Homo sapiens: one gene and its partners. The protein of the gene in region 3 purifies or fractionates together with the protein of the main gene of each other region. This does not show direct contact. Each region holds a gene or a part of one and is shown on either strand. Other genes may lie near its edges. The genes, in order: MT1X, ENPP6 and DCTD.

Evidence for each region.
Region 1: the proteins of DCTD (region 3) and MT1X fractionate together in Homo sapiens (co-fractionation; one large-scale study listed by BioGRID). This does not show direct contact.
Region 2: the proteins of DCTD (region 3) and ENPP6 purify together in Homo sapiens (co-immunoprecipitation; one large-scale study listed by IntAct). This does not show direct contact.

What each region holds. Positions count from the first base shown.
Region 1 is NC_000016.10:56,681,149-56,684,696, forward strand, and holds MT1X (metallothionein-1X), read left to right. Parts: upstream 1-1,321; 5' UTR 1,322-1,392; coding exon 1,393-1,420; intron 1,421-2,016; coding exon 2,017-2,082; intron 2,083-2,809; coding exon 2,810-2,901; 3' UTR 2,902-3,048; downstream 3,049-3,548. UniProt on the Homo sapiens protein: Metallothioneins have a high content of cysteine residues that bind various heavy metals; these proteins are transcriptionally regulated by both heavy metals and glucocorticoids. May be involved in FAM168A anti-apoptotic signaling.
Region 2 is NC_000004.12:184,092,177-184,095,901, reverse strand, and holds part of ENPP6 (glycerophosphocholine cholinephosphodiesterase ENPP6 precursor), read left to right. Parts: intron 1-2,666; exon of another isoform or gene 2,667-3,725. UniProt on the Homo sapiens protein: Choline-specific glycerophosphodiesterase that hydrolyzes glycerophosphocholine (GPC) and lysophosphatidylcholine (LPC) and contributes to supplying choline to the cells.
Region 3 is NC_000004.12:182,910,718-182,914,442, forward strand, and holds part of DCTD (deoxycytidylate deaminase), read right to left. Parts: intron 1-3,725. UniProt on the Homo sapiens protein: Catalyzes the deamination of dCMP to dUMP, providing the nucleoside monophosphate substrate for the thymidylate synthase/TYMS.

The DNA of each region.
Region 1 (3,548 bases), on a different chromosome or scaffold from region 3:
TTCACTCCAGAAATATAAAGCCATGAGCAAGATAGTCCCTGTCCCCATCACAGAAACGGAAGGATACCTGCCAGTTCTGCTACCACCTGCACCAATATGTGACTTAACGTTTTTCTTTCAAATGATTCCTATTTCCTTAGATATTTTTATATGAAAAGCAAACTCATTAGCACCACTGAAAAAAGAATCAGTTTAACTTCCAGACATAGAAGGTTGCCATCAAATTATGCTTATTCATATCCCCTCTGCATCTCTGTTTTGCTTCCAGGACTGACCTTGATGCTTGGTTTTGTTTAAAGATTTCAAGCAGTAAAGAGATGAATATATCTAGGCCAAAGGGAAGCTTCATCATTGCTTTGGGACGCTGACCGGATTCAGACCCAGCAGTGTCACTTCGCAGCCCTCTGACCCTGGGCTGGTGGCTTGAACTCCTTTTATTGTTGTTGTTCAGATTAGAATATGGGTTCATGAATAGAAGTATGTCCCTTTAGGGTTGCTGTGAGGGTTCAACGATGCAAAGTGACTAAAAAGGGCCTAACACGGATTAATGTTATGTAGAGTAATAGGAATATGGAAGGAAAAATAACCCTGTTTCTTGCATTTTAATTTAATCCGGAATCCGCATATCACCTAAAATGATCCCTTTTCTGGGAGCATTCCACATTTTCCAAACTGTCATCCTGTGGTGGGGTGCCCGGCTAGGCTATGGGGAGACCTGGAGAGTTTTATGCAAAGGAGGACCTGGGCAAATGTGCCCATTCAGCCTCTCAAGAGTGGAGAATGCAAGGACGGGGGCAGAGCCCTGTGTCTGTTCTGTCCCTAGACATAAGAGAAACGTGGCCAACAGACCGAGGTGGGGACGGGGACAGGGACCGGCAATGCAGGAAATCCGAGTGTCACATCCTCTGCCTCTCATTTGCACACTGCTCCCTCGCTATGCTCACCGCTCCCGCCGATCCAGGGACGTGATCCAGGGACTCTGGGAAATGCAAAGCTACACACAGTGGAGCGGGGGCTGGGGGTGTGTAGACCGCCGGGATTCCGAGTTTCCCGGCACGCCTAGGAGAGGGAGAGGCAGGCAATGTCAGGGAAATTGGGCAGGCAAGACGCCAGGGACGCCACGTACTGCCAGGTTCTCAACGAGGTGGAGCCAAAGGGGCAGGCCCCGCGGTGCGCCCGGCGCTGGGCTCACGGGTTGCTGCACCCGGCCCAGGATCGCGGGCGGTGCAGACTCAGCAGGGGCGGGTGCAAGGACGAGGCGGGGCCTCTGCGCCCGGCCCTCTTCCCGGACTATAAAGAGAGCCGCCGGCTTCTGGGCTCCACCACGCTTTTCATCTGTCCCGCTGCGTGTTTTCCTCTTGATCGGGAACTCCTGCTTCTCCTTGCCTCGAAATGGACCCCAACTGCTCCTGCTCGCCTGGTAAGGGACACCTAGCTCCGCGCCTTGGGATGCCCGTTTCCCAGCCACAGTACAGACTCTTCCTGGGTTTGAAGAAGTCGCATTTAAAGTTCTGAGCTGAAGGGGCTCCTTTATTTCGTTAGGTGCTTTCTTCCCGATCACGTCCCTGAGACCACTTCTCGCCTCCCTGTGCCTCTAAGTTAGAGTTGAGGGTACTGAGGCCCAAGGCTGTCCTGCTCCATGTCACCCAGTTGGTCAGGGGGCTGCTGGCTGAGCCCCAATGCTCTGACCAGGCTCTGAGCAGTCAGGGTGGATGGGAAGTGGGGGGCCATTGCCTCTTCGGAGTTCAGGACAGAAGGTTCTGGCCTCCTGTCTTAGCCTTCCTGGGCTGTGTCTGGAGCCTGGGACCTTGCTTGTGGGGTAAAAGCAACAGAACACTTGCCCTTCCCAAAATGAAGGGAGAGGAGATGGGGCTTCTCTTCCTCTCCCCTGAGTGGGAAAGGAGCTCTGGGGGCTGGTCCTTCAGCACAGAGGAGGGGTCACTGAAGCGTTATTGACCAGCTGCTGTACCTTCTGCATCTCACTCCACGCTCACTGCCTTTTTCTCTTCCTTGCAGTTGGCTCCTGTGCCTGTGCCGGCTCCTGCAAATGCAAAGAGTGCAAATGCACCTCCTGCAAGAAGAGTGAGTGCAGGGCCTTCCCTGCGAATCTGGGGGATGGGCCAAGTTAGAGCAGGGAACCCAGAGCTCTGCAGGCAGGGGCAGGCCAATGACCAGCTTCCCCAAACCCCTCCTTCAACACCTGATTCAGAATCAGACCTCAAATTGCCTTAAAAATGGGTGAGTCCCAGCCTCTTATTACCAAACTAGAAACTGAGGCCCAGAGAGGTTACCAGATAGTGTTGGGAACAAAGCTGGAATGTGAACCTAGGTCTCCTGCCTCCTGATGCAGCCTTCTTCACCCTTCTGGGTCCTGAAGCACTTAAGGCCCAGGATCTGGAAGACCCCGGGTGATTTCAAACCTAATGATCCAGTCCTTTCCTGCAGGGGTAGCCCAGAGCTTCCCTAGCCTTCCCCAGAACTGCTGTGTCAGGGATTTGCCCCCTGTCCGGCTGTGAAGACTTTCCTCATTTAAGGGTAGGTTTTGGGGAACTGGCCTCCTTTTGTTCCTGTACCCCCAATCACTACCTGTCCAGTCTTCTGTCCTGTCCCAGACTCAGGTGGGGCTGGGCAGCTTTTTCATATAAAACCCTCATCCCAAAGATCTACCAGTTCTCTTCTGACAAAGCCATGCCATCCTGAAATGATGGTCCTCTGGGGCTGGAGGCAGGGCTCGAGCCAGGCCTCTGTTGGGGCAGGGAGGTGCCTGATTGAGTCTGCTCTGACCTCTCACTCTCCCCTTCTTCTCCAGGCTGCTGCTCCTGCTGCCCTGTGGGCTGTGCCAAGTGTGCCCAGGGCTGCATCTGCAAAGGGACGTCAGACAAGTGCAGCTGCTGTGCCTGATGCCAGGACAGCTGTGCTCTCAGATGTAAATAGAGCAACCTATATAAACCTGGATTTTTTTTTTTTTTTTTTTTGTACAACCCTGACCCGTTTGCTACATCTTTTTTTCTATGAAATATGTGAATGGCAATAAATTCATCTAGACTATTCTGGCTCTGGGCACCTCATTTGTCACTGGGTATATGGCACTTGGTTCCAGTTGGATTGTAGGAAACCCAGATTGTGGGGCATTTCAGAGAGGGGACCATGGCAGTGGGGGTCTGGGTGCAAGGTTCCTGCAATCCTGCCTGGCCTTGGCTCTCCTTTGTGAACTATGGCAAACTAGGGGGTTTATTCTACCACCCTCTAGCAACGGTTAACTGGTAGTAGCTGCCCTTTTTGTGTAGCTGTGACACAGCCTATACTCACCAGCCACCTATGGTGCACCTACTGCATACACAGGCATGGGGTCCTCAGTGGTGAGGGGAACAGGGAGCTTATGGACTGCTGGGGGGAGAGAGAATTATAGAATAAGGAATCTTATAAAGGAGAAAGTACTGTGACTGAATGCACTTGGGGTGAGCCCAAATGAAGAACTCTTTCCACTGGGATCTGAGAGCTGCATTCCTGCAGAGGGCACAGCTCCAGCAAAGGTCTGGAAGTGGGGA
Region 2 (3,725 bases), 1.2 Mb from region 3:
AGGAATTAGGAATGGAGCACCCCGAGGGTAACTACTGGATTACATTGGATACATTCCAGGGCCATGGTCTTTCTTTGTGAGAACATTAGTCAGCAAGGCTTTCATTCAAAAGCATGGCACCCTCCATTCCCAGATGAGGGAAATAGGATCATGAATGCAAAGCAGTGGTCTGGGAAGGACTATATACAAGTGAGAGTCTCAGGAATATATATATCTATATATATATATAGATATATTTTTTTTTTTTGAGACAGTTTCTTGTCACCCAGTCTGGAGTGCAATGGTGCCATCTCAGCTCACTGCAACCTCCACCTCCTGGGTTCAAACAATTCTCTTGCCTTAGCCACCTCAATAGCTGGGATTCCTGGAGCCCACCACCACGCCTGGCTAATTTTTATATTTTTCTTAGAGATGGGGTTTCACCATATTGGCCAGGCTGGTCTCAAACTCCTGACCTCAGGTGATCTGCCTGTCTCAGCCTCCCAAAGTGCTGGAATTTCAGACGTGAGCCACCACGCCCAGCCGAGTCTCAGGAATATTTTAAAGCAGAACCAAATCTAGCCCCAAACCCCAAATTTTAAACAAGGTCCCCAAAGCTGCATTAGCTTAAAGTTAAAATTTGGTGAAGAGATTCTGTCCATTAACAGAGGCCTCCATCACAGGTTCCTGTAACACTAAAAGCGCCCAGTCTTTTACAGACAGATAGATGACCCCTGATGAAAATGGACTGCGCTAATTGCAAAATGTTTCCAGGCAGATACAGCGTGGAGAGCCTCCCGCAAACCATCACGTTCTGGCTCCAGTTCTCATGAAAGATTAAACAGCTTTACACACTGGCTGTTTACTGAGAAGAAAATTTAAGAGCAAGGCCTTTAATAGCTATCTGGCTGCACTTTGAGATAAAGGTGCATCCCTCCTGATTAACTGTATGTGCTTCTCCCTTAGGGGGAAAGCTGGGCATCATTGCGGCTGCCCAGATGCAGCCTCAGAAGTCAGTGAGTCTGGTCCAGCAAAGAGAAAGGGAAGTAATTCTGCAGGAGAGCCTCACTCTTGTTAATCCCAGTTTCTAATTTGAACAGTCTAATCTTGCCCTGGAGAACTCCACGTTTGAGATAAGACAGCAGGAGTGGGAGTCAGTGAGCTGCCTGCGAGCTAGCAAGCCCCACTGGGAAGGCAGCCCCAGGTGGCCAGCCACAGTGTAAGCCTGCAGAACCTCCTCTCTGTAAGAGACACACCTCTCATATCCAAAAAAATGTAAACACGCGAGGATAACTTGGACTCTCTGTCCATGTCTGAAATGCCATCTTCAGCTAGTAGAGCCTGTCTGGGTCCTCAGTTGGATCAGGCATTGTTTTGCTCTTCAGGAATTTTCTAAAAGCTTTCTCATTCCAGCCTGGATTATTTCTGCACTGAGCCCAAAGCACTATCCCTGCGCAGCAGGAGGCCACGAACTAGGTGGGATGGGAAAGAAATCTCAATCCTCCTTTATGCTTAAATGCACAGAATTCGATTTCATATTTCCAGTGTAAAAAGATAATATTTTCTAATACTTTTGTCAGAAGAATTTGATCTCAGTTTTTCCTGTGAAGTGTTAAAGAAGAGGATTTTTGTTTTGTTTTGTTTTTTAGAGATGGTCTTTCTCTGTCATCGAGGCTGGAGTGCAGTGGCATGATGGCTTACTTGTAGCCTCCATCTCCTGGGTTCAAGAGATCCTCCTGCCTCAGCCTCCTGAGTAGTTGGGACTACAGGCACACACCACCGCACCTAGCTAATTTTTTATTTTTGCAGAGTTGAGGTCTTGCCATATTGCCCAGGCTGGTCTTGCACTCCTCAGCCTCAAGCCATCCTCCTGCCTCAGCCTCCCAAAGTGCTTGGATTACAGGTGTGAGCCATAGTGCCCAGCCACAAATGGATATTTGAAAGCCTGTGGGACACCTGGGCTTACTCTGGTCCACTGCCTCACATGCCCTCCCACCCACACACAGCAAGGCATGGCCCCATGTGGCAGTAGAATTATCACATCCAGGTCACATGAGAAGAAGATAGAAGAGTTGCTTCCATGCCGCTGGAACAACCATTCCACTGGATTCTCGTGCTGCACTTGATTCCTCGGATAGGGAAGTGTAACTACCATCCTCATCTGATTGTCTGATCTGCCTGAGAGGGGCTGGGATACTGGGGCAGCCCTTTCTTTCTCCTCTCTGGACAGGTTTTACATTATTATTATTATTATTATTATTATTATTATTATTATTATTATTTTGAGACAGAGTCTTGCTCTGTTGCCCAGGCTGGAGTGCAATGGCACGATCTTGGTTCCCTGCAACCTCCGCCTCCTGGATTCAAGCAATTCTCCTGCCTCAGCCTCCTGAGTAGCTGAGATTACAGACACCTGCCACCACACCCAGCTAATTTTTGTAAATTTTGTAGAGACGGGGTTTCACCATGTTGGCCAGGCTGGTCTTGAACTCCTGACTTCATGTGATCTGCCCACCTCGGCCTCCCAAAGTGCTGGGATTACAGGTGTGAGCCACTGTGCCTGGCCAGGTTTTACATTTTTTAAAACTAATTTTTACTCTGAGGAGAAGCTGACCCTTATCCTCCATGCCCCTGAAGAAAAGTAAACCCTCCAGATAATTTAGAAAGTGAATATATTCAAACCACAATTTGTCCTTGTCATAAATATTTATTAATAATAGTAGTGACCATTTACTGGGTATACACAGTGTTCCAGGAACGATGACTTTCTATGCCTATTTCCGGAGGTCACCCAGCTAGTGCATGCTGGGTGCAGGCTGGCGGTAGAGCCCACACACCTCTTTATATTGGATTCAACTTTAATTCTCCAAAGGGAGCAAAACGTGCTATTTGGGCAGTTGCCCTGGATCTAACATACTATGTGGCAGAAGTATCTATATTTAGCTTTTTTCCAATTTATAATTCCAGGATAAATAGAGGAGCAGAATTTGGTGTTGATACCTCTGCAATATATTGCTGTGTGTTGTTGTTTGTTTGCTTTTTAACTAAAGTATTTAGGATTCTTTAGCAAAGCAATTACAAAGATTATTTCTAATATCTTAAAAAACTTGGCTTTACGGCCCCCAAACAACTCATTTCCTTCAAAAGTTGTAGGGGAACTAGAAAGCACAGGCACAGGCCTTTATCAATGGCTTAAATCTCCTCCCTGAATTCAACCTTAATGTAGCATTGGGTATTTTGTTACAAGCTCTGGTTTGGGGCCTAAAAGTGAAGTTGCTTTTGTGTATTACTAAAATCTTACATTCACTCTTTAAATGGACAAGTGCTTTGAATTCTGCCTCTCATCTGCCCGCTGTAGAGAAGAAGAAATCCCTTGATTGAAATCCCTCCAAAGACTTGTGGAGTCACCCTCGGCGTCCCTCACTCACCGTGCTGCGTGTGGCCACCCTACCTGTGTGTTCTTGCGTGACTCTCGAGCTTGGGGCCACTCTGGGCAGAGGCACAGTGGTCTTCTCCATTAGATCGCTCAGAGCCTGCACATGGATCCCTGATTCAGATACCAGTTTGCTCATTTTCCACATGGCTAATGTATTTTATCTGTTGGTAAAATGCTCCCAAAGAGTGTTCCACTCATCTTCCAAATGTATTTAGGAAACCATCGCCATGGCTGCTGAGCTAGCGAGCACCGAGAAAACTGCAGTTTCACATTCCATCAAGACCTGTGACCTCGATGGGGCAGCAAAGTG
Region 3 (3,725 bases):
AAAAGCTTCTTTAGCAGAGGGAATTTTCATTTTCCACATTAATACTACATTATAATAAAATAGTTTTATGAAGTTTTGATCCCAAGACTGGAAGAACAAAAACACCCTTTAAAAATAACTCTCTAGAGACACAGCCCAGGAAAAGCTCCATCTTCCTATTATGTTACAAGTAGTGTGTGTTTCCCTCCTCCCCACAAGGCATCAATCAGGACTAATGACTTCCGACTTACGGAATTAATAAAGCAGTATTAAGCTGTATGTTATTTGGTAAACTCAAATTTACACAGTTCTCAAGCTCCCTGTCACAGTCCCTTGGGGCTGCTATAACAAAGTCCCATAGACTGGGTGGCTGAGAAACAATGGACATTTATTTCTCATGGTTCTGGAGGCTGGAAGTCAGGACACCAGCATGGTTAGATTCTGGCAAGGTCTCCTTTCAGGGTTGCAGATAGCCATCTTCTCCGCCTATCCTTGCACATGGAAAAAGAGTAACTGAGCTCCCTGGGGTCCCTTTTAGAAGGGCACTAATCCCATTCAGGAGAGCTCCACCCTCATGGCCTAATTACGTCCCCCCAGGCCCCACCTCCAAATATCAGCACATTGGAATTAGGGTTTCAACATGTGAATTTGGGGGGAGACACATTCAGTCCACTGCACTCCCCTTTGAAGAAATGTTACAGTGAGCCACGCATGTGGCTTTCTGCATGATGCCGGACACAGGCCACCCCTCCCCGAGCTCCTGATCTCTGAGGAGTAATTATTTTATCGGAGCCTCAGTCTGATCAACTGCAAAAAAAAATGAGACAATGATTGGCATTTCAGTACAGCTGAATTCATGTGCCCCACAGGAGAGACACAGGGAGGTAGCAGGAAGAGCACTGACCTTGGAATTAGGAGATGTCACCCTGCATGTGTGACATTATAGAAGTTACTTACAAGAAAGGAGGAGGCTTAGATCCTGTGGGCATAGAACCCTGAGACACTACTAAGGTATTGCAAGGGGTCCAAGCATATCCACAACTGGATAAATCCCATGTCCAGGACATACATAAACTTTTCCCAAACATACATAAATGCTATCCAATTAATAAAGTTCAGATTAACAAAAAATGTTACTGATACGAAGTAGTTTTTGTCATTGTGGAGTTTCTTACTCAAAAGATACTAAGAATTTAGCATTATGCAGGGGTCCTGGAAGTTTTTCAGCATTTAAAAGAGGGTCCTGTACATTCAAAAGAGTTAAAAATCATTGTCCAGAACTCGAGATAATCTCTAAAGCTCCTTTACAGGGATTAACCTATGAATTTACCCTTCCTGCTACAGCAGCTCAGTCACCATTAATGTAGATGAGGAAAGAATGGGTTGAGCTATCCAACTCCAGGCAGTATCCCCTTATTTTTTAAATTAATTTTGAAAATCTTAAAACGAAAGCAAAAAAAAAAAAAAAGACTTTGCATTTGAGTCAATTATCAGCAAACATTTCTGTGACATCCCAGGCAATCCAAACATTTACTTCTCTGTGGCCTGAAAAACCTTGAGAAGACAACAAGTGTACAGTTTATACACAGTCATCGTCATTTAGACTTTAAGCCCATCTTTACTGTATTATGGCGGCAGTAATACTAAATGCCTTTTAGAAACCATTTAATACCTTCTACAACTTTTATGGTACATCAAATTACAAGCTTACTCTCGTGAAAGAAAACTGTCGACATTCTAACACAGCTACATATAAATGAATAATTGATAAGTAAGAGCAAAGAGCTTTGAAAACCTAGAGGTATCATATGGATAATAAAAAATAATGCAGACAGACAACCAGTGCCCAGGAGCTCAGGAGCTATTCAATAAAAAACAATCGGTGAAGTTGGACAAATACCTATGCAGGTTTTTAAAAAAATTCCTTCTAGAAAGGGGCTCTGAAAGGTACTCTCCTCAATTTGGACAAAAGGCAGTGTCTCATAACCAACAAAATCAGCTACACGGGAAGTCAGGAGAGCTGGGAAGTCTGGGGTGTGGGGCAGGTGCTGCAAATGTACTGCATGGCCCTTGGCTTCCAGGTCACTGCTTAAAGATCTGCTGGGGGCTCTGGGTGACTGAAGAAGGCACAGGCCCCATTGGGAGGCCCACTCAGTGCTCACCCAGGACCCCTCCGCACTGTCCAACCACGGGTATCTTTTGCACCAGCTTGAGTATGACGGACCGCCATCCCCCCAGAATTCCTCCATATCAAAGTCCAGCCCCAGGGCCAATATTTCACTGCCCAGACTCGGTGACATACTGACTGTGGCCGTCACACAGTTCAATGCAGACCTTTAACATATCGACCCTCCACTTTCACCATTTTTATAGGGGACTTTGAACCGCACTGTGAAAAATTATCTTTGCATGGACTTAAAAACAACTAATCACTTCCCTTCTTTCTTACCATCAAAAGCTTATAGAATCAAAATCAGGGTGACAGTTTCTGAGTCCGCGCATTTTTCTAATTAGTCATCCACTACCACCGGCTCTGAAGCTGTGCTGAGAAGACAGTCTTACCCTCCCCCAACTCCATCCTCTCTTCCCACTCCGACGAGGGAGGGTGAGGTTAAATCAAGGATCTGAGGATTCGGTCCCCTTCATCCCTAAACTACTTTTCACATCCTGGAAACCCAGACTGCTTTGCAGTCCTCAGTTCCTCCTCTCTCTCCAGGTACCTCTTAACTTTTTCTTTCAAACATGGAGAAGTTGCCCCTAGGCAATTTAGAAAGAAATTTATGGGGCTTATTTAACATGATTGAGGTCCAGGAACATTAGTAAAAATATATAAATTAGACTAAATGTTGACTTGGATTCTTCATGAGAAAAACCCAGAAGAAAACCTACCAGGAGAGTCAACAAAGAAGAAAGGTCGTACATCACGCCTTGGCCTGAAGACACAATCTTTCCCATTTGGATGGCCTTACTCTCCCTTCACTTCCAACAGCGCCAGTCTGTTCATTCTCAGACATAAAATACAGGGCCTAACCTTACAAAAATCAGCAACCTGCATACCCAGCATGATTTGCCTCTTTTCCAGCATTGCTTGCATATTCTCCAAGGAATGCAAGGAAAAGTAAAGCTATGGCTGGACCCTCCCAGGCAATCTCTGAAGGAATTTTCCCTGGGGCTTAGACAGGCAACAAACTCTAAGAAGCAGCCTTCCCTAATTTCAAGGGGAAAATCCAGAGACAGTCAAGCCAAAGGTTTACAGTTCTACACTTCTAGCTTTTTCTTTTCTTTGTTTTTGTTTTGTTTTTTGTTTGTTTGTTTTTGTTTTGTTTTTTGAGACAGAGTCTTGCTCTGTCACCCAGGCTGGAGTGCAGTGGCGCAGTCTTGGCTCACTACAACCTCCACCTCCTGAGTTCAAGCGATTCTCCTTCCTCAGCCTCCCGAGTAGCTGAGATTACAGGCACCTGCCACCACGCACAGCTAATTTTTGTATTTTTAGTAGAGATGGGGTTTCACCATGTTGGCTAGGCTGGTCTCGAACTCCTGACCTCAGGTGATCTGCCCGTCTCCACCTCCCAAAGTGTTGGGATTACAGGCGTGAGCCATCGTGCCCAGCCTCACTTCTGGCTTTTGGTCTGACCACAGCCTACTGTGAAATTGCAGCATCCCCTGTAACTGGAGGAAGCAACTGGATCCTCCATCTCCTGATGTCTAGTTCACAGTTTGATTCCTGCTTGCCAGCAATGAGCTTG